3 separate regions of the Homo sapiens genome follow, and all the other regions are linked to region 2. Evidence: fine-mapped expression QTL. A gene starts in region 2. Each other region holds a variant in brackets. All regions are shown on one strand. Distances are between the middles of the regions. Region 1 overlaps PODN (podocan). Region 2 holds the start of ZYG11B (zyg-11 family member B, cell cycle regulator). Region 3 overlaps ZYG11B (zyg-11 family member B, cell cycle regulator).

Evidence for each region. PIP is the estimated chance that this variant, and not a neighbour inherited with it, causes the effect.
Region 1: its variant is the best candidate, but not a certain one, in a credible set for the expression of ZYG11B in anterior cingulate cortex (GTEx, PIP 0.57).
Region 3: its variant is the best candidate, but not a certain one, in a credible set for the expression of ZYG11B in whole blood (TOPMed, PIP 0.65).

What each region holds. Positions count from the first base shown.
Region 1 is chr1:53,075,721-53,081,892 of GRCh38, forward strand. PODN (podocan) reads left to right here. Exons shown (of 11, transcript NM_153703.5): 5 at 142-251; 6 at 1,470-1,626; 7 at 1,965-2,080; 8 at 2,645-3,302; 9 at 5,008-5,156. Among named protein-coding and RNA genes, the nearest start is that of PODN, 17 kb to the left of the region's middle. RefSeq lists enhancers at 5,438-5,989, 5,990-6,172. The variant C/T (reference allele first, on the strand shown) is at 3,121.
Region 2 is chr1:52,723,238-52,729,409 of GRCh38, forward strand. It overlaps ZYG11B (zyg-11 family member B, cell cycle regulator), which reads left to right and starts at 3,216. Exons shown (of 14, transcript NM_024646.3): 1 at 3,216-3,446. The coding sequence starts at 3,417. RefSeq lists a silencer at 3,027-3,606.
Region 3 is chr1:52,803,835-52,810,006 of GRCh38, forward strand. The region is part of intron 10 of ZYG11B (zyg-11 family member B, cell cycle regulator); the gene reads left to right. It also overlaps the pseudogene RNU6-969P. Among named protein-coding and RNA genes, the nearest start is that of ZYG11A, 36 kb to the right of the region's middle. The variant T/C (reference allele first, on the strand shown) is at 3,238.

The DNA.
Region 1 (6,172 bases), 350 kb after region 2:
TGGGACAAGTTTCAATTTGAGAAAGATGGCCTGGTTGCAGGGAGACACAGTGAAGGGGCCCCGGTGGGCAGCAGGCAGTGGGACCCACAGCTGGCCTCTGCTCCTCCATTGCTCTTTCGGCCCCAACTCTTCCCTTCCCAGCTGACCTTGGCACCCCGCTTCCTGCCAAACGCCCTGATCAGTGTGGACTTTGCTGCCAACTATCTCACCAAGATCTATGGGCTCACCTTTGGCCAGAAGCCAAACTTGAGGTCAGAGGTCGGGGGTGGTCAGGGCTCGGGCTGGGGCAAGGGGAGGGGCTGAGGTGGAGGCTGCCATCCTGTGTGAGGCAGAGACAGGTCCCGAAGGAGGCCCTGCACTCAGGGCTGTGGTGGAGGGACACCCAGGGGCCCTAACAGAGGAGGACAACTCGGGCCAGGAGGTGAGGACAGAGAGTGTTGTCTACAGGAATTGTGGTGAACCAGTGAGGATGTCCCCACTTTCCCAGCCCCTGGGGAAGGGGAGCATCTTTCAACAGGCAGAACTGCCCTTCGCTGAGCTGCATTGGGAGGAGCAACCGCCCCCCAGCATAGGTGTGCGAGAGAGCAGTGTGGTGCAGGCGGGGTGGGGGGCTGCCGGGGAGCCGCCTCCAGGACAGTTTGGGGGCTGGACAACCCCAGTGCCCTTCCATCCCTGCGTCTGCCATCTCAGTGACTCTCTCCATCTGTCTGAGGACCCAGGACCACTGTACACGGCCCCATCCCACAGACAGAGGCTCAAGACGGGCCACACAGCAAAACTGAGCTGTGTCTGTCACAGATGACCCTTGTTCCTTGTCTTCCCTCCTTCTAGTATGTTGGGTCCACGAGGGCAGGGTCTGTCTCATTGGTCATGTCCACTGTTATGCCCTCAGTCTAGAACAGCTCTGGCATCTCATATATATATTTATTTATACACCTTTTATATATATATGCATATATCTCTATTTAATATATTATATTACATAATATATTAACTATATATTTGCTGAATGGATGAGGGCCACCTCCTCTGAGACAGGCCCTGTGCTGGCACTAGGGCCAAAGAGGCAGGCAGAGATAGGCCCTGTGTTTAGGAAGTCCTAGGAACTCAGAGCCAGGCTGCGTGGGGTTGACAGGCAGGGATGAAGGGGCCGCGAGTCAGGCAAGGACTCCAGGGCTGAAAGGGTCAGGGGTCAACTGAGACCTTGAAAGGCGTGGAGGGGCCTCTGCCAGGGGTCAGGAAATCCTATTTCTCCCGCTAGCTTATGGGACCACCTGTGGTGGGGCACGGCCCCTTCTGGTCCTTGGTTCTGTCAGCTGTGTAGGCAACATCTGAGGTGCTTCTAACTCTGTACCCTTGAGTTTGGATGGAAGGAGAGCAGCCTGGGCAAGGGTTTAGAGGCTCACCAGTTGAGCTGGCGCAGGGCCTGGGGAGCCCAGGTGGGTGAGGACCTGTGCCTTGACCCCCAGGTCTGTGTACCTGCACAACAACAAGCTGGCAGACGCCGGGCTGCCGGACAACATGTTCAACGGCTCCAGCAACGTCGAGGTCCTCATCCTGTCCAGCAACTTCCTGCGCCACGTGCCCAAGCACCTGCCGCCTGCCCTGTACAAGCTGCACCTCAAGGTGGGCAGGGGAGGGGTAAGGAGGGGCACAGCAGACCCCACAGCCAGGGCACTGGGGCAGGGGCCTGCAGGGGAAGAGCTCAGGCCCACATGGCCACAGGTGCTGCCCAAGTGGGGCCCCGGGGCTGACAGCAAGGAGTCTACTGTGGAGAAGTGGGCAGAAACCCGGGCACCTGGCCAGTGGGTTGTGTGTGGCGTTGGTGGCCCCACACCTGGGTTGCTTCAGGTCTGGGTGCCTTCCTGGTGGCTTCCCAGACTCCTCTCCACACCTCATCCCGAGGCCCTGACCTTGCCCTCGGCCCTCCCTCACAATCTCCTCCCTTCCCTTCCATCCCCCAGAACAACAAGCTGGAGAAGATCCCCCCGGGGGCCTTCAGCGAGCTGAGCAGCCTGCGCGAGCTATACCTGCAGAACAACTACCTGACTGACGAGGGCCTGGACAACGAGACCTTCTGGTGAGTCCTTGTCTCACCAGGTCCTTGGCGTGACCACGGGGCCCGGGAAGCTCCTTCAGGGCCAACCATCCAGCCCAGCCCAGCCCCTCACGCACGTCCCCTGCCCACCTTCCCTGGAGAAGGAACTTTAAGCCTTGTGCCTCTGTTGACATTTCTGTCCCTGGGAACAAGGACTATGTAGAAGTAAGGCCTTCCAAGATTCCAGTGAGGCAAAGAAGCGTTGGTGGAGGCTGGCTTCTTGGTGCGAAATACAGACTCGGGCATTCTTGCTGAAGGCAAATGCATTTTCATTTTTCTAAGGGACCAGGGTAGCCATAAAAGGCTATCAAAAGGTTAAATAGTGGTCTTCAAGTAAACTCCTGTGTGTCAGAAAATGCCGGATCCTTCCTACACCAGAATATCATTGAGTCAACCCAAGGAGCAAGGACTGAGGGCCCACAGTCAGTGAGCAGCAGAGCTGGGAGGAGCTAGTGGCAATTCCCCAGCCACATCTCTTGGGAATCATGGTGGAAACGAGCACAATGTGGGCTCTTGCCAACCGTCCTAATTCCCTCCCTGCCCCAGGAAGCTCTCCAGCCTGGAGTACCTGGATCTGTCCAGCAACAACCTGTCTCGGGTCCCAGCTGGGCTGCCGCGCAGCCTGGTGCTGCTGCACTTGGAGAAGAACGCCATCCGGAGCGTGGACGCGAATGTGCTGACCCCCATCCGCAGCCTGGAGTACCTGCTGCTGCACAGCAACCAGCTGCGGGAGCAGGGCATCCACCCACTGGCCTTCCAGGGCCTCAAGCGGTTGCACACGGTGCACCTGTACAACAACGCGCTGGAGCGCGTGCCCAGTGGCCTGCCTCGCCGCGTGCGCACCCTCATGATCCTGCACAACCAGATCACAGGCATTGGCCGCGAAGACTTTGCCACCACCTACTTCCTGGAGGAGCTCAACCTCAGCTACAACCGCATCACCAGCCCGCAGGTGCACCGCGACGCCTTCCGCAAGCTGCGCCTGCTGCGCTCGCTGGACCTGTCGGGCAACCGGCTGCACA[C/T]GCTGCCACCTGGGCTGCCTCGAAATGTCCATGTGCTGAAGGTCAAGCGCAATGAGCTGGCTGCCTTGGCACGAGGGGCGCTGGTGGGCATGGCTCAGCTGCGTGAGCTGTACCTCACCAGCAACCGACTGCGCAGCCGAGCCCTGGGCCCCCGTGCCTGGGTGGACCTCGCCCATCTGCAGGTAAGCGGAAGGGAGGGGGCTGAGCCATGCCCATGGAGGGGGGTACTGGCATGGCTGCCCTGAGCCCACCTGTCTGAAGGGTGAGGAGAAGGGCTGGGTGGTGAGGGAGGTTCCTCTGGTATGGCCAGGCTGAGCTCATTCACCTTCAGGTATCTGCTGGAGATGCTGGCTAAGGCGAAGCTAGGCCTTAGGGGAGGCAGGAGGTGGGTCAGGCAGAGGGTGTGGCTGGCATGCCAGGGTGAGCCCAGCCCACCTGCAGGTACAAGAGTGAGGGGCAGAGTACAGGTGGTATGACCGAGCTGAGCTCATCACCTGCAGATACAGGTTTGAGAAGGGCTGTGGAGGTAAGGAAGGTCATGGCTGCAGGTAGGGGCCCTAGGCTCAGGAGGACCGGGGGCCAGTTCGGGTGGTATGTATGGGAGAGTCAAGCTCACCCCTTTGCAGGCACAGGAGTAGGTATGTGGAGAAGGCTGGGCTTTGGGATGGGAGGCAGAGGGGACAGCCTGAGCTGTGGGCCCACCTCACCAGTCTGCAGAGGGCTGGAGGTGGGGATCTACTCATGCTTTCTGAGGCTGGCCAGTCGATGTGGCTGCTGTGACCACATGGTCAGAATTAGGCAGGGATGCCTGGGCACATAGTTCACTTTGGTAACAAAACCCCCAACTCAACCAGTGTGGGTGAAAGAGAAATCCACTCTATACGCTGGCTCATGCCTGAATCTCAGCAGTTAGAGAGGCTGAGGCAGGAGGATCACTTGAGCCCAGGAGTTTGAGGCTTGCCCGGGCAACATAATGAGACCTCATCTCTACAAAAAAATAAACTTAAAAAAATTTAGCCCCGTGCAGTGGCATGCATCTCACCCTGGGGGGCTGAGGTGGGAGGATCACTTGAGCCTAAGGAAGATAGAGCTGGCAGTGAGCTATGATCACGCTACAGCACTCAATCCTGGACGACAGAGTGAGACGCTGTCTCAAATTAAAAAAAAAAAAAAAAAAAAGGAAACTCATCAGAGAACCTGGGAGGGAGGGTGGGGTGCTGCCAGTTTAGGCACTGCCCAGTGGCTTCAGCGGCTCCCTGTGGGAACCCACTTTCCTGACTGCCCTCCCCTGGATGCCAGGCATGTGATGATCTGAGACAGAATGGCCTGGGGCCTGGCTGTTGTGCTGGGGTCACTGTGGGTCTCACACCGTTGCTCCTGACCTCTGCACGTGTGGCCCCTGAGGTCCATAAGTGAGCAGTCCCACTCAAGCAGCTCCCACTGCACCCATCCAGGGCCAGTGGGGTGAGATTCAGAGTCTGGGGGATCCCTGGGCTCTGCCCATTTGAGATCTTTGGGAATGACCAAGTCTAATGGGAATGACAAGTGTGTCAGGAGATAGGACTGTGACACCCAAACATCTTGGCTGTGGGTTTATGTGGGAAGGCACAAGAAGCTGGGTAGGACGTTCATCAATTAGAATAAGGGTTTGGAGTCAGGCACACCCGGCTACAGCCTTTTATAGGTTATGTGACCTTGGAAAGATCACTTAACCTCTCTGAGCCTCTATTTCCCAATCTGGGAAGTGGGGATAATTATAGACACCCCCCCTCCTCCACACAGGGTTATTGTTAGATTTAGATAGGCTGGGGGCTTGGTGGGAGTTTTGTAAGCTGTTAAGTGCTTTGCACAGGTGGGAGTCCCTGACTCCCTTGGTCACCCCTGCAGCTGCTGGACATCGCCGGGAATCAGCTCACAGAGATCCCCGAGGGGCTCCCCGAGTCACTTGAGTACCTGTACCTGCAGAACAACAAGATTAGTGCGGTGCCCGCCAATGCCTTCGACTCCACGCCCAACCTCAAGGGGATCTTTCTCAGGTAGGAGCCCACTCGCGGCCCTGTACACACCCCCGTGGGGCCCACCCTGGCTCCAACGGGACAGTTGATGCACGTGGGAACAGCTTGGCTCCACTGCTGCCTGTGTAACCACGGCTCAGATCTCAAGGGTGGGGACAGTCCTGGCCAGGCCCGATATGGTTCCTAGGTTTGTAAAAGGGCTTTGGAAACGTTAGAAGCCAGTGCGCATGGGCGTTGTGAATGTTACTGTGGCAGAAAGGATGCTGGACAGCATCTTCCTGGTTTGCAGCTGAGAGAGCTGAGGCCCTGAGAGCACAGGTGACTGCTGTGTCTGCAGCCATCCAGGCTGGGTCCGGGCCTCACACTCAGGAATAGATGTTCAGGCCCTCCCTGGCTTCTGGGGCTAAGAGATGGGGATTTGGAGTGATTCGGGGGATGCAGCTCCCTGAGGATATGAGGGGCTTCCATGCAGCAGAGCCAGGGTGGTTCTTCCCAGCACTTCCCACAATCCCTGCCCCCAAATCAGAGAGAAGGAGACAAGGCAGAGATGAGTGTGCTCCCAGGAGCTCGGTTGCCCAGAAAGCCCTGGGCTCGATGATATCAGGGTGGCTTGACATGTGCCTCAGGCATCTGCAGGGTAGCTGAAGCACAGAGAGTGAGGGGCCTGAGATCAGAGCCACAGCCTCCACCTTTCCACCCCTGAGTGTGGCCCTGGCCTGGCTCAGCGCTGGCCTTGCCTTTGTGCCACTCCACATCAGGCACTGCGGTGACCCCTGGCTACCGCAGCCCAGGAGCCTCAGGCCTTGGGGTTAATGCCAGGGATGGCATAGAGACAGCTCCCAAAGTTGTGGCTTCCAAAATAGCAGTGAGAGTGTGCGCAGAGAGAGACCCCTCACTTTGCAGAGACTGGCCCAGAGCCAGCCCCACCACAAGCTGCAGCTGCCCTGACCGGCCTGTACCTTCCATCATGTACTGCGCTCTCAGCCCCTGGCCTTTCCCGCCTGCTGCACCACTTTCCGGGAGGGCCATTCCCTCCC
Region 2 (6,172 bases):
GGGTACTACAGTATTTAGAGGTCAGAGAAATGAGGAGAAACTAGGAGCAGCCAGTGAGATAGAAGACCCGAGGGGGTGAAATGTCATGGTAGCCAAGGAGGGGGAAGTAATGAGCTGTGTCTAGTGATGTTGGTAGGTCAAGTAACACGAGGACTGAGAATTGACTGGTGTCAGCAAATGGACACCACTAGTGACCTTGACAAGGGCATTTCAGTGGAGTGGAGGAGGTAAAAGCTTAACCAGAGAGGATCTCACCGAAAATGAGAAAAAGGAAGTCAAGGCCAGGCGAGGTGGCTCATGCCTGTAATCTCAGCATTTTGGGAGGCCAAGGCAGGCAGATTGCTTGAGCTCAGGAGTTCAAGACCAGCCTAGGCAACATGATGAAACCTCATCTCCACAAAAAATACAAAAATTAGTTGGACGTGGTGGCACATGCCTGTAGTTCCAGCTACTTGGGAGGCTGAAGTGGGAGGATTGCTTGAACCCAGGAGGCTAAGGTTGCAGTGAGCTGAGATCGCACCACTGCACTCCAGCCTAAGCAACAGAGTGAGACCATGTACAAGCCACCTTTGTGAGACATTTTGCAGAAAAGAGAATGGAGAAATGGGGCAGTAGGTGGGGGGTCAAGTCCAGTCAAGAGAGGGTTTTTTTTTTTTTTTTGAGGTGGAGTCTCGCTCTGTTGCCCAGGCTAGAGTGCAGTGGCGTGATCTTGGCTCACTGCAACCTAAGGAGGGTTTTTTTGTTTGATTGTTTTAAGATGGAAGAAATAAAATCATGTTGCTATAGCAATGAGAGGTAATAGCAGAAAAATAGCGATGTAGGTGAGAGGAAGAATTGCTGGATAGGTGTCTTTGAGAAAGTGACGTGGTATGAGACCTAGTACTTGAGCTCCTCAAAGTGTCATCAATGGACTAGTGACCATCTAGAAATGGTTTTTCACCAGTTTGTGACAGCAATTCAGAATTAATATTTTGAAACTTTTATAACAATTTGACAGAAAAATGTTACGCGTGTTGGGTTTAATAATAAAAATTCTGCCTAGAGTAGTCAAATTCATAGAGATAGAAAGCAGAACAGTGATGGCGAGGGATTGGGGGAAGTTAGGAATGGGGAGTTATTGTTTAATGAGTACAAGCTTTCAGCTTTGCAAGATAAAAAAGTTCTGGAGGCCTGGCACATTGGCTCACGTCTGTAATCCTAGCACTTTAGAAGTCTGTGGCAGGAGGATTACTTGAGCCTAGGAGTTTGAGACAAACCTGGGCAACACAGTGAGACCTTGTCTCTACAAAAAAAAAAAAAAAAAAAGGTAGCCAGGCGTGGTGGTATGTGCCTGTAGTTCTAGCTGCTTAGGAGGCTGAGGTGGGAGGATCGCTTCAGCCCAGGAGTTTGAGGCTGAGTGAGCCGTGATTGTGCCACTGTACTCCTGATGGGTGACAGGGTAAGAACTTGTCTCAATAAATAAATAAATAAATAAATAAAAGAAAAAATAAAAAGTTCTGGAGCTTCTTGATGGGGATGGTTGCACAACAATGTGAATGTATTTAATACCATTGAACTGTACACTTTAAAATGGTTAAGCAGGTTTAAAAAATCTGGGCTTGCATTTTGGATGCTTGTTTTTAAATTTTAATTTTTTCTAGTAATTAATTTTGATTGTATTTTACAGAAATTTAGTTTTGTGATTGGGGATAAAATCTGGGTCTTTTAGCACAGATGCTTGAGAACTGAGGAGGATTTGATGTTAGCTAAAAGACAAATAATTAACTTGTAGTAAGGAAAGGAAGGCAGAGAGAGCATCAAAGCAGAGTTACAGGTTCGTTGGAAGTCATGGTGGGTGCTGGGAACTTGTAGATGTTCTTTTTGGTTTGTTTGATTTTCTTGTGAATTAGAAGCAAAATCATCAGCTAAATGAGATGAGGGAGGAAGTGTCGGAGGTTTGAAGAGACAGGAGACTTGAAATAGTTATGTAGCAAGGTGGGAGAGTGTGTGAAACTGGAGAAATGTGGTAGGGTAGCCACTCATTATGGCCTCTTGAGAATAATGATCTCAAATTTACGGGGAGTCAGTCAACCACTTTTGGCTTTTTCTCCACCCACTCCATTGCTGGAGTTCTGTCAGTACAAAGAAAGCAGAGAACGACTAGAGAAATGAAGGTAATACTGAAGAAATCGACTTCATGTACCTCATGTACTCACTTTCTTCCCCAAACAGCTTAGATTCTATTAGATTCCATTTCATGACGGACGATAGAATCTAAGCTGTTTCAGGAAGAAAGTGAGTACATAAGGCCAGCGTGGGGAGGAATAGCGAAAAGGTAGTTGGATCAATGGATTTGGGGTCTTGGAGTTGAAGTTTTTGGAGTTGGAGTATTATCAGACAGAGTGAGCTAGAAAGGAAGAAGGTTGTGGCCGGGCGCAGCGGCTCACGCCTGTAATCCCAGCACTTTGGAAGGCCAAGGCAAGCGGATCACCTGAGGTCAGGAGTTCGAGACCAGCCTGGCCAACATGGTGAAGCCACTTCTCTACTAAAAATACAAAAATTAGCCGGGTGTGGTGCCGGGTGTTTGTAATCCCAGCTACTCGGGAGGCTAAGGCAGGAGAATCACTTGAACCCGGGAGGTGGAGGTTGCAGTGAGCCAAGATCGCACCACTGCACTCCAGCCTGGGCAACAAGAGCGAAACTCCATCTCAAAAAAAAAAAAAAAAAAGAAAGAAAGAAAGAAAGAAAGAAAGGAAGAAGGTTGCAATGGGAGTTAGAGGATTAAAATTGAGATTGTAGAGAAGTTACAATTATTCGTATGAGCATGAGAGTGAGAGGCTGAGCCAAGAATGATCCCTAGAGAAGAATCTGAGAGGCCAGAGGATTGGAAGAATTAAGCGAATTTTGAAATAACCAAGAGTTATGACAATAGTAGTAATGAATGACAGTGAACCAGAAGCCCAAATCTTAGAGAATGATGGTGAATGACAGAGGAGTCTATAGGTGACCGAAGTGAGCGATGCTCTAATCTCTCGTCATGATGTAATATTTAAAGCTTTTCATATTTTGAAGGGATGCTAGGATTTGGGGGTGTGTGGCTCCTTTAAGGGCCTGGGAGGGGGAGAAGCTGGAGGTCGGGCTGGGGGGGGCGGGACCCCCTCGTCTGAGTCTGCGCATTGAGAGCGGAGGCGGGTCCAGGCGCGGGCTCGCGCGCCCGGGCGGGTCCTCGCGGGGGCGGAGTCTGCGCTCTGGTTCGGGCTGCGGCTGCGGCTGCGGCTGCGGCTGCTACTGCTACGCTCCTAGCTTGAGGGAAAGAGGCCGAGGCCTGGGCCAAGCCCGGAGCCGCCGCTCGCCGGAGCCTCCTGGAGCCTCCGCGCCGGCTCAGCCTGGGGGCGGGCTCCGGTCCGGCCCGCCGCCGCACCCAGGACGGAGGCTGCATGCCCGAGGACCAGGCCGGCGCAGCCATGGTGAGGGAGCAAGGCCTGCCCTAGCCGCAGCCGCCCGCCACCCTAGCCCCCGCCCGTCGCGCTGGCCCCTGCGGTCTTGCCCCTCCCTGTCTCTGGTGTCCCCTCGGGCTCCCTGCCTTTACCTCTCTCCCTCGTTACCGCCCCCTCGGTGTTCAGCTCCTCCTTCCCCATTCACCTGCTTCGGTGAACCCCTTTAGGTGACACCCCCTGAATCTCCCTTCTCCCCGATGACATCCTTTTTATCACCCCCAGTGACAGCCTTTTTCGCATTCCCTTTGTCGCCCACTCCTTGTCCTTTAACCCTAACCCTTCCTTTCTTTCTCCTCTATCATTTTGCCTTTTTTCCTCTTATGTGATTTTTACTTTCCCCCCTTTCCTCCCTAGTTTTCGCTGCTCTTCCTTGCTCTTCTCACCCCTCTTCACCATTTTATCTCCACTGCCCCCTTCTCTCCGTGTTCCTTCTCCCCTTCGTCCTCTTCCATCCACGTTTCCTCTTCCCTTATCGGATGTCCTCGCTCGGTTCGCCGTCGCAGCTGTCCCCATTTCCTTCTACGGGCTTCAGGGGTCTAAGCAGGAACAATTTGAGGACTGTTGCTTCCCGGGAGCTGTAGGGCGGGCAGATAGGGATTTATAGGTTTGCTTCTTCCTTTTCGTTTTTGGAGGCATTGAAGAGATCCTGGAAGCCTATTCACCTAGTGTCATTGCAAAATCGAAGTGGTGGTGTGTTACAGAGCAGTGAAGTGAGGGCCAGCATGCATACTGTGACCTCAGGAGAGATCTAGTCTTTTGACAGAAATAGCTAAAAAATGTTTTGAATTTTTTTTATTTTGAGCATCTTTTAATGTGGAGGTGCAGTTGGAGAAGTTTAAAAATACTTATTTACAAGCTTGGCTATTATTACTAAAAACAAATGATTTGTTTTCATTTGGAGGCAGAGACCAAGGGCATTTGAGGACTGACAATCAGGTTGGCAGGTTGTGACAGTCTCTTTAAACCTTCTAAAGAGTTCATTTGTTTTGCCCTGTCTGCCTTTAGTTGGGAGAACCTTATATTTGCAAATTTTCTTTCTGTCTGAAAATAGGTTGAGGCTTCAGTTGGTTTTTTCATTGAGTTGGGTTATAAGTGGTTTGCTGTACATTTATTGAAAACATTGCTCCATCATATGCAACAAGCTAAATTTTGGTCTCTGGGAGGAATAAGGCAAAACTAAGTCCTGATAATTATGTTCCCCTAGGAGGTTAGTCAGTTTCTTTTTTTCCCTCCAGCAGTTTTTTAGAAAAGTAATATACTATAAAATTATTTAATCTATGAATTTTCCCTAACTCACTCCTGCATTTTTAGTCTGTCATTTTCCTGTGTTTGTCTCCTTCACTTTCACACACTGTTGTTGTATGCTAACCTGTTTCTCCCTGTGGAATGTAAGTTCTAGGTAGCAACCGTTCCTTACTTATTATTCCAAGTGCCCAGGCCAGCTAGGTGCTTGAATGATTCACTTTATGGTCTCATTTCCCACCTGACTAATATAAACTTAAACTGAAATTTGAGGTAACTAGTGGACTACACAGAAAGAGTGAGTTTGAGAATTGTTGTTTGGAGACGATCTTGCTCTGTGGCCCAGGCTGGAATGCAGTGGCACAATCATGGCTCTTTGCAACCTTGAACTCCTGAGGTCAAGTGATCTTCCCACCTCAGCCTCACAAGTAGCTGGTACCACAGGCACGGACTACCGTGCCCCGCTAATTTGTAAAACTTTTTGTAGAAATGGAGTCTTGCTGTGTTGCCCAGTCTGGTCTTGACCTCCTGGATTCAAGCCATCCTCCCACCTTGGCCTCCCAAAGTGCTAGAATTACAGGCATGAGCCATCACGCCTGGGCAGAGAATCTTAATTTTGATGCAAAAATGATATTGAGTGAGGTATGATGATATACTTTTCAGAATAAAGAGCTATCCTACCTAAGACATTACACTGCTAGATTTTTGAAAGTGTGGGCCCTTCCATTGAGAATGAATGTATGAGAGGGAGGAGTTATGAACTCCCCTTTGAGGTATTTAGGATCTAAAAGTGTCCTTTGAGCTGGGCCTGAAAGTTGAATAGGATTTATATAGATCATTTTGGGAAGGGGAAGAATGCCTCATTGTGAATGTGAGTAGCAAGTAGAAAGGATCCCCTCACAGGGATTTTTTTTTTTTTAAGAAAGAAAGTAGGAAGGAATTAGGATGCATTGTAGGAAGTAGTATTACCCTTATATAGCATGGAAGGATGCAAGAATGGAGATGTGTAGTAGGAAATGAGGCTAGCAAGATACTGTCTTAGCCCATTCAATCTACTGTAACAAAATACCATAAACTAGGTAGCTTGTCAGCAACAGAAATTTATTTCTCAGAGTTTGGAAGGCTGGGAAGTCCAAAATCAGTTCCCCAGTGGATTCAGTGTCTCGTGAGGGCTCTTCCTAAGTCACCTTTTCACTGTTTTCACACATGGTGGCAGGGGCCAGGCAGCTCTCTGGAGTCTCTTTTATAAGGGCACTAATCCCATTCATGTGGGCACTAACTGGTGATCTAATCACCTCCCAAAGGCCCCACCTCCTCATACCATTACCTTGGGGGTTAGGATTCCAACATATGAATTTAGGGAGACAGAATTCAGACCACAGCAGACATATTAGGCATGATTATGTTTTAAACTTTGCATCTAATTAACTTGATTTTTCCTTGCTTGTTAAAAC
Region 3 (6,172 bases), 81 kb after region 2:
GCTCAAGCAGTCTTCCTGCCTTGGCCTCCCAAAGTGCTGGGATTACAGGCATGAGCCACCACACTTGGCCTTGTGTTTCACTTTTATAATTGGTAAACCAGATCTCATTAAAAAATGTTATCAGACTGGACACAGTGACTCATGCCTGTAATCCCAACACTTTGGAAGGATGAGGTGAGAGAATTGCTTGAGCCTAGGAGTTTGAGACCAGCCTGGGCAACGAAGCACAACCCCATCTCTACAAAAAGTGAAATAAGAAAATTAGCTGAACATGGTGACATGTACCTGTAGTCCCAGCTAGTGGGGAGGCTCAGGCAGGAGGATCACTTGACCCTAGGAGTTTGAGGGCTGCAGTGAGCTGTGCTCATCCTACTGCACTCCAGCCTGGGTGACAGAGTGAGACCCAGTCTCTTAAAAAAAAAAGTCATTAACCTACAAGTGTTCTTAGAGTCTGTGTTTGATAGTTAATGATTACTACTTAAAGACTGCTTACGAAGGCCGAGTATAGTGGCTCAAGCCTGTAATCCCAGCACTTTGGGAGGGTGAGGCAGGCGGGTCACCTGAGGTCAGGAGTTTGAGACCAGCCTGCCCAACATAGTGAAACCCCATGTCTATTAAAAATACAAAAGTTAGCCAGGTGTGCTGGTACATGCCTATAATCCTAGCTACTCAGGAGGCTGAGGCATGAGAATCGCTTGAACCTGGGAGGTGGAGGTTGCTGTGAGCCGAGATTGCACCATTGCACTCTAGCCTGGGCAACAGGGTGAGACGGTCTCAGAAAAAAAAACAAAAAACAAAAGCCTGCTTACAAATCACATATTTCTTAACATATTGGATATGGATTAAAGTAAGCCCTCTAGGATTTTGAGACAAAGGTAAAGATCAAATGTTTTATCAGCTTAATTGCTGTAACAGGCAAAGTGTCTATGTGGCAAAAGCCATTTTATTTTATTTTTTATTTTTGAAAAAAATATTGGTCAGGTGCAGTGGCTCATGTCTGTAATCCCAGCACTTTGGGAGGCTGAGACAGGCAGATCACCTGAGGTCGGGAGTTCGAGACCAGCCTGACCAAAATGGAGAAGTCTCGTTTCTACTAAAAATACAAAATTAGCCGGGCGTGGTGGCGCATGTCTGTAATCCCAGCTACTCGAGAGGCTGAGGCAGGAGAATCACTTGAACCCGGGAGGCGGGGGTTGCTGTGAGCCGAGATCGCACCATTGCACTCCAGCCTGGGCAACAAGAGCAAAACTCTGTCTCAAAAAAAAAAAAAAAAAAAAAAATGGAACACTTTGCAAATTTACATGTATCCCTGCACAGGGGTCATGCTAATCTTCACTGTACCGTTCCAATTTTAGTATATATGCTGTCAAGTGAGCACAAAAAAGCAGACCTCTGCTCTCAAGGAATTAGATTATGGGAGGCATAGATTAGTGAGTTAAAAAATGTAAATTGGAGCTTGTTTTCCACATGCAAGCAGTGAGGAGATGGATTTTTAGGAAAGCTGAGGACTGCCATTTAAGGAAGACCTATCTGTTGTTGTAGCCTTCATTATATAAGGTAGAAAATGGAAAACAACCTAAATGTCCAGTAATAGAGGAATTATTAAATAAATTACAGCATTTGATTGTTTTTTCAGGGTTAATATGATTATTTGATACAGAAGTTGGCTCAGGTCATCTGAAACGGAAAGGTGAAATTTATTTTAAATATTTGTGGGTTGGGTGCAGTGGCTCATGCCTGTAATCCCAGCACTTTGGGAGGCTGAGGTGGGTGGATCACGTGCGGTCAGGAGTTCAAGACCAGCCTAGCCAACATGGTGAAACCCCGTTTCCACTGAAAATACAAAAATTAGCCAGCCGTGGTGGCCCATGCCTGTCCCAGCTACTCGGAAAGCTGAGGCAGGAGAATTGCTTGAACCTGGGAGGCAGAGGCTGCAGTGAACCAAGATCACGCCACTGTACTCCAAGCCTGGGCAACAGAGCAAAACTCTGTCTCAGAAAACAAAAACAAAACAAAACAAAAAAGACTTCATCTCAAAAAAAAACCTATATATTTTTTTAAATTTCCAAAGGAATACATGTTGTTATAACTAGTGAAACAGTGCAAAACTGTATTTAACATCCTTAAGGCTCTGTCTCCAACCTTTCGTCATTTTTATCTCCATGAAGTTATTAATATTAATATAACTTTATATGTTTCCTTCCATATTTTTCTCTGTTACCTTGTGATTAAATTTTTTCAATAATTTAATTTGAGATATTTATTCTAATTTAATTATTTATGGTCAGAGAATATGCTTTGTTTGGTTTGAGTCCTTCTGAATTTATTGAGACTTGTGAATGGCCAAGGATATGGTCTATTTTGGTAAATATTCCATGTACACTTGAGAGGAATGTGTATTGTCTTATTATTGGGTATAGTGTTCTATAAATGACAATCAGGTCACTGATTGTTAATTAGCTTGATTAATTAACACTAATTAATAATTAGATTGTACAGTGTCACAGTTGATACTGTACAATTCTACCACATCCTTTCTAATTTTCTGCCTACCTGTTCTATCAATTATTGACAAAGGAGTTTTGAAATCTCTGACTGTAATTGTAGATGTATGTTTCTCCTTACAGTTCTATCAGCTTTTTCTTCATGTATTTTGAAACTGTATTATTAGATGTATAAACATTTAGAATTATGTCCTCCTGTTTAATGGACTCTTTTACCGTTACCAAATGACTTTCTTTACCCCTGCTAATATCCTCTACTTTGAAGTCTGCTTTGATACTGATATAGCCATTTGTACTTTCTTTTGACTAGTGTTAGCATAGCATTTCTTGTTTTATCCTTTTACTTTTAACCTATATTTGTCTTTATATTTAAAATGTATTTCTTGTAGATAGCATATACCTTGCATCCTGCTTTTTCATCTAGTTTGAAAATATCTGTTTTTTATTTGGGGTATTTGGATCATTTACATTTCCTGTGATTTTTAAATTTTTTTAAATAATAAAAATAATAATTGTGTATGTGGAGTACAATGTAATTTTTTTTTTTTGAGACGGAGTCTTGCTCTGTTGCCCAGGCTAGAGTGCAGTGGTGTGATCTCAGCTCGCTGCAACCTCCACCTCCCGGGTTCAAGTGATTCTCCTGCCTCAGCCTCCCCAGTAGCTGGGATTACAGGCGCCTGCCTCTGTGTCCGGCAAATTTTTGTATTTTTAGTAGAGATGGGGTTTTGCCATG[T/C]TGGCCAGGGTGGTCTCAAACTCCTGACCTCATGATCTGCCCGCCTCAGCCTCCCAAAGTGCTGGGATTACAGACTCACGTGAGCCACCGCGCCCGGCCTTTTTTTTTTAAGTAGAGACTGGGTTTCACCATGTTGTCCAGGCTGATCACGAACTTCTGACCTCAAGTGATCCACCAGCCTCGGCCTCCCAAAGTGCTGGGATTACAGGCGTGAGGCACCATCCCAGCCCAATGTGATGTTGTGATGTGTTTAATCACTGTGGAATGATTAAATCAAGCTAATTAACATATCCATGACCTTACATACTTACTGTTTTTTGTAGTGAGAGCATTTAAAATTTACTCTTGGCTGGGTGCAGTGGCTCACACCTATAATCCCTAAATTAATAATAATGTATAGTTCAGAATTGCTAAGAGTACTTTTTTTTTTTTTTTTTTGAGACAGGTTCTCACTCTGTCACCCAGGCTGGAGTACAGTGGCATGATCTCAGCTCACTGCAGCCTCGACCTCCTGGGCTAAAGCAATTCCCCAACCTCAACTTCCTGAGTAGTTGGAATTATAGGCGCACACTACCATGCCCGACTAATTTTTAAATTTTTGTAGAGATGGGTTTTCGCCATGTTGCCCAGGCTGGTCTTGAACTCCTGAACTCAAGTGATCCACCCACCTTGGCCTCCCAAAGTGTTGGGATTATAGGTGTGCACCACCATAGCCTGGTGTCATTTTTCTTCAACCTAAAAGACATCCTTTAACATTTCTTACAGTGTGGATCTGCTGATGATGAATTCTTCAGCTTTTGTCTGACTGAAAACATCTTTACTTAACCTTTGTTTTTGAAAGATACTTTTACCAGGTATATAATTCTAAATTGACATTGCTTTAAAGATACTGATTAGCTTTTTTCTGACTTGCTTCTTTCTAATGAAAAATCTGATGTCATCATTATCTTTGTACTTATGTATGTACACGTTCTTTTCCTCTGGCTACTTTTAAGATTTAAGATTAGTTGGCCGGACACGGTGGCTCACGCGTGGAATCCCAGCACTTTGGGAGGCCAAGGCGGGTGGATCACCTAAGGTCAGGAGTTCGAGACCAGCCTGGCCAACATGGCGAAACTCCATCTCTTCTCAAAATAACAGAAATTAGCTGGGTGTGGTGGCAGGTGCCTGTAACCCCAGCTACTCGGGAGGCTGAGACAGGAGAATCGCTTGAACCCAGGAGACGGAGGTTGCAGTGAGCCGAGATCACGCCATTGCACTCCAGCCTGGGCAACAAGAGCGAAACTCCATCTCAAAAAAAGAAAAAAAAGATTTAAGATTAGTAACAATTTTGAATATTTGATTATATGTGTCTTGATGTAATTAACTTCATGTTTCCTATATTTGGGATTTATTGAGCTTCTCAGATATATAGGTCTATAGTTTTCATCAAGTTTGGAAAGTTTTTAGCCATTATTTCTTTTTAAAATATTTTTGTACAGATGGGATTTTGCTGTATTGTCCAGGCTGGTCTCAAACTCCTGGCCTCAAGTGATTCTCTCACCTTGCCCTCCCAAAGTGCTGGGCTTACAGGAGTAAGCCACTGTGACCTGCCCATTTCCCTAAAATAAATTTTGCAGCCCTTTTCCCCATATTGGAGTCCTTTGGAGACGCTAATTTGCACATGTTAAGCTGCTTGACATTGTCCCACATGTTACTGATGCTCTTTAATGTTTTTGTTCTTTTGTATTCTGTGTGTTTCAGTTTGGATAGTTTCCCTTGCTATGCCTTCAGTTCAATATTTTTTTTCATCTGCAATATCTAATCTGCTACAATGCCATCTGGTAGATTTTTTCATCTTAGACATTGTCATTTTCATCTCTACAAGTTCAATTTAGGTGTTTTTTGTATCTTCCGTGTTACTACTTTTTGAATATATGAAATAAAATTTTAATAACTCTTTTAATATCCTAATCGGCTAGTTTTATTTAGTATCTGTGTCAGTTCAGGGTCAATTTCAAGTGATTATTCTCCTCATTATGAATTATGTTTTCCTGATACTTGGCATGCTTAGGTTTTAATTTACTTTTTAAAAAATTTATTATGTTTTAAATTGTGGTAAACAACGTAAAATTTACCATCTTAACCATTTTTAAGTGTATTGTTCAGTGGTATTAAATACTTTTATAATGTTGTAGAACCATCACTACCACTCATCTCTGTAACTGTTTTCATCTTGTAAAACTGAACGTCTGTAACCATTAAACAATACTATTCCATTCCCCCATTCTGCAGGCCCTGGTAACCACCATTCTATTTTCTGTCTCTATGATTTTAACTCCTTAACTACTTCATGTAAGTGGAATCATACAGGTGATCCGCTTGCCTCTGCCTCCCAAAGTGCTGGATTACAGGTGTGAGCCACCGCGCCCGGCCACAAATATCTCTTTTAAGACTCTACTTTGAATTTTATGGGGTATAGTTCCAGAAATAGAATTACTGTATCATGATAATTCTATTTTTAAATTTTGAGAAACTACCATACTGTTTACCACAACAGCTCTACTGTTTTACATTCCCACCAACAGTGTCCAAGGGTTCCGATTTCTCCACATTCTCACCGCTTGTTATTTTCCTTTTTTTTTAATAGTAGCCATTCTAATGGGTCTGAGACAGTATCTTGTAGTTTTTGTTTGCATTTCTCTGATGATAAGTGGTGTTGAGTATATTTGTATGGGTTTATTGGCCATTTGTATGTCTTCTTCGGAGAAATATCTATTCAATTCCTTTGCCCATTTTTAAATTGGGTTGTTTGTGTTTTTGTTGTTGTATTTTAGGAGTTCTCTATATATTCTGGATATTAATCCCTTATCAGATATATGTCTTGCAAATGTTTTCTCCCATTCTGCTTGGTAGTTTTTGATTGAATGCCAGACATTGTGAATTTTTACCTTCT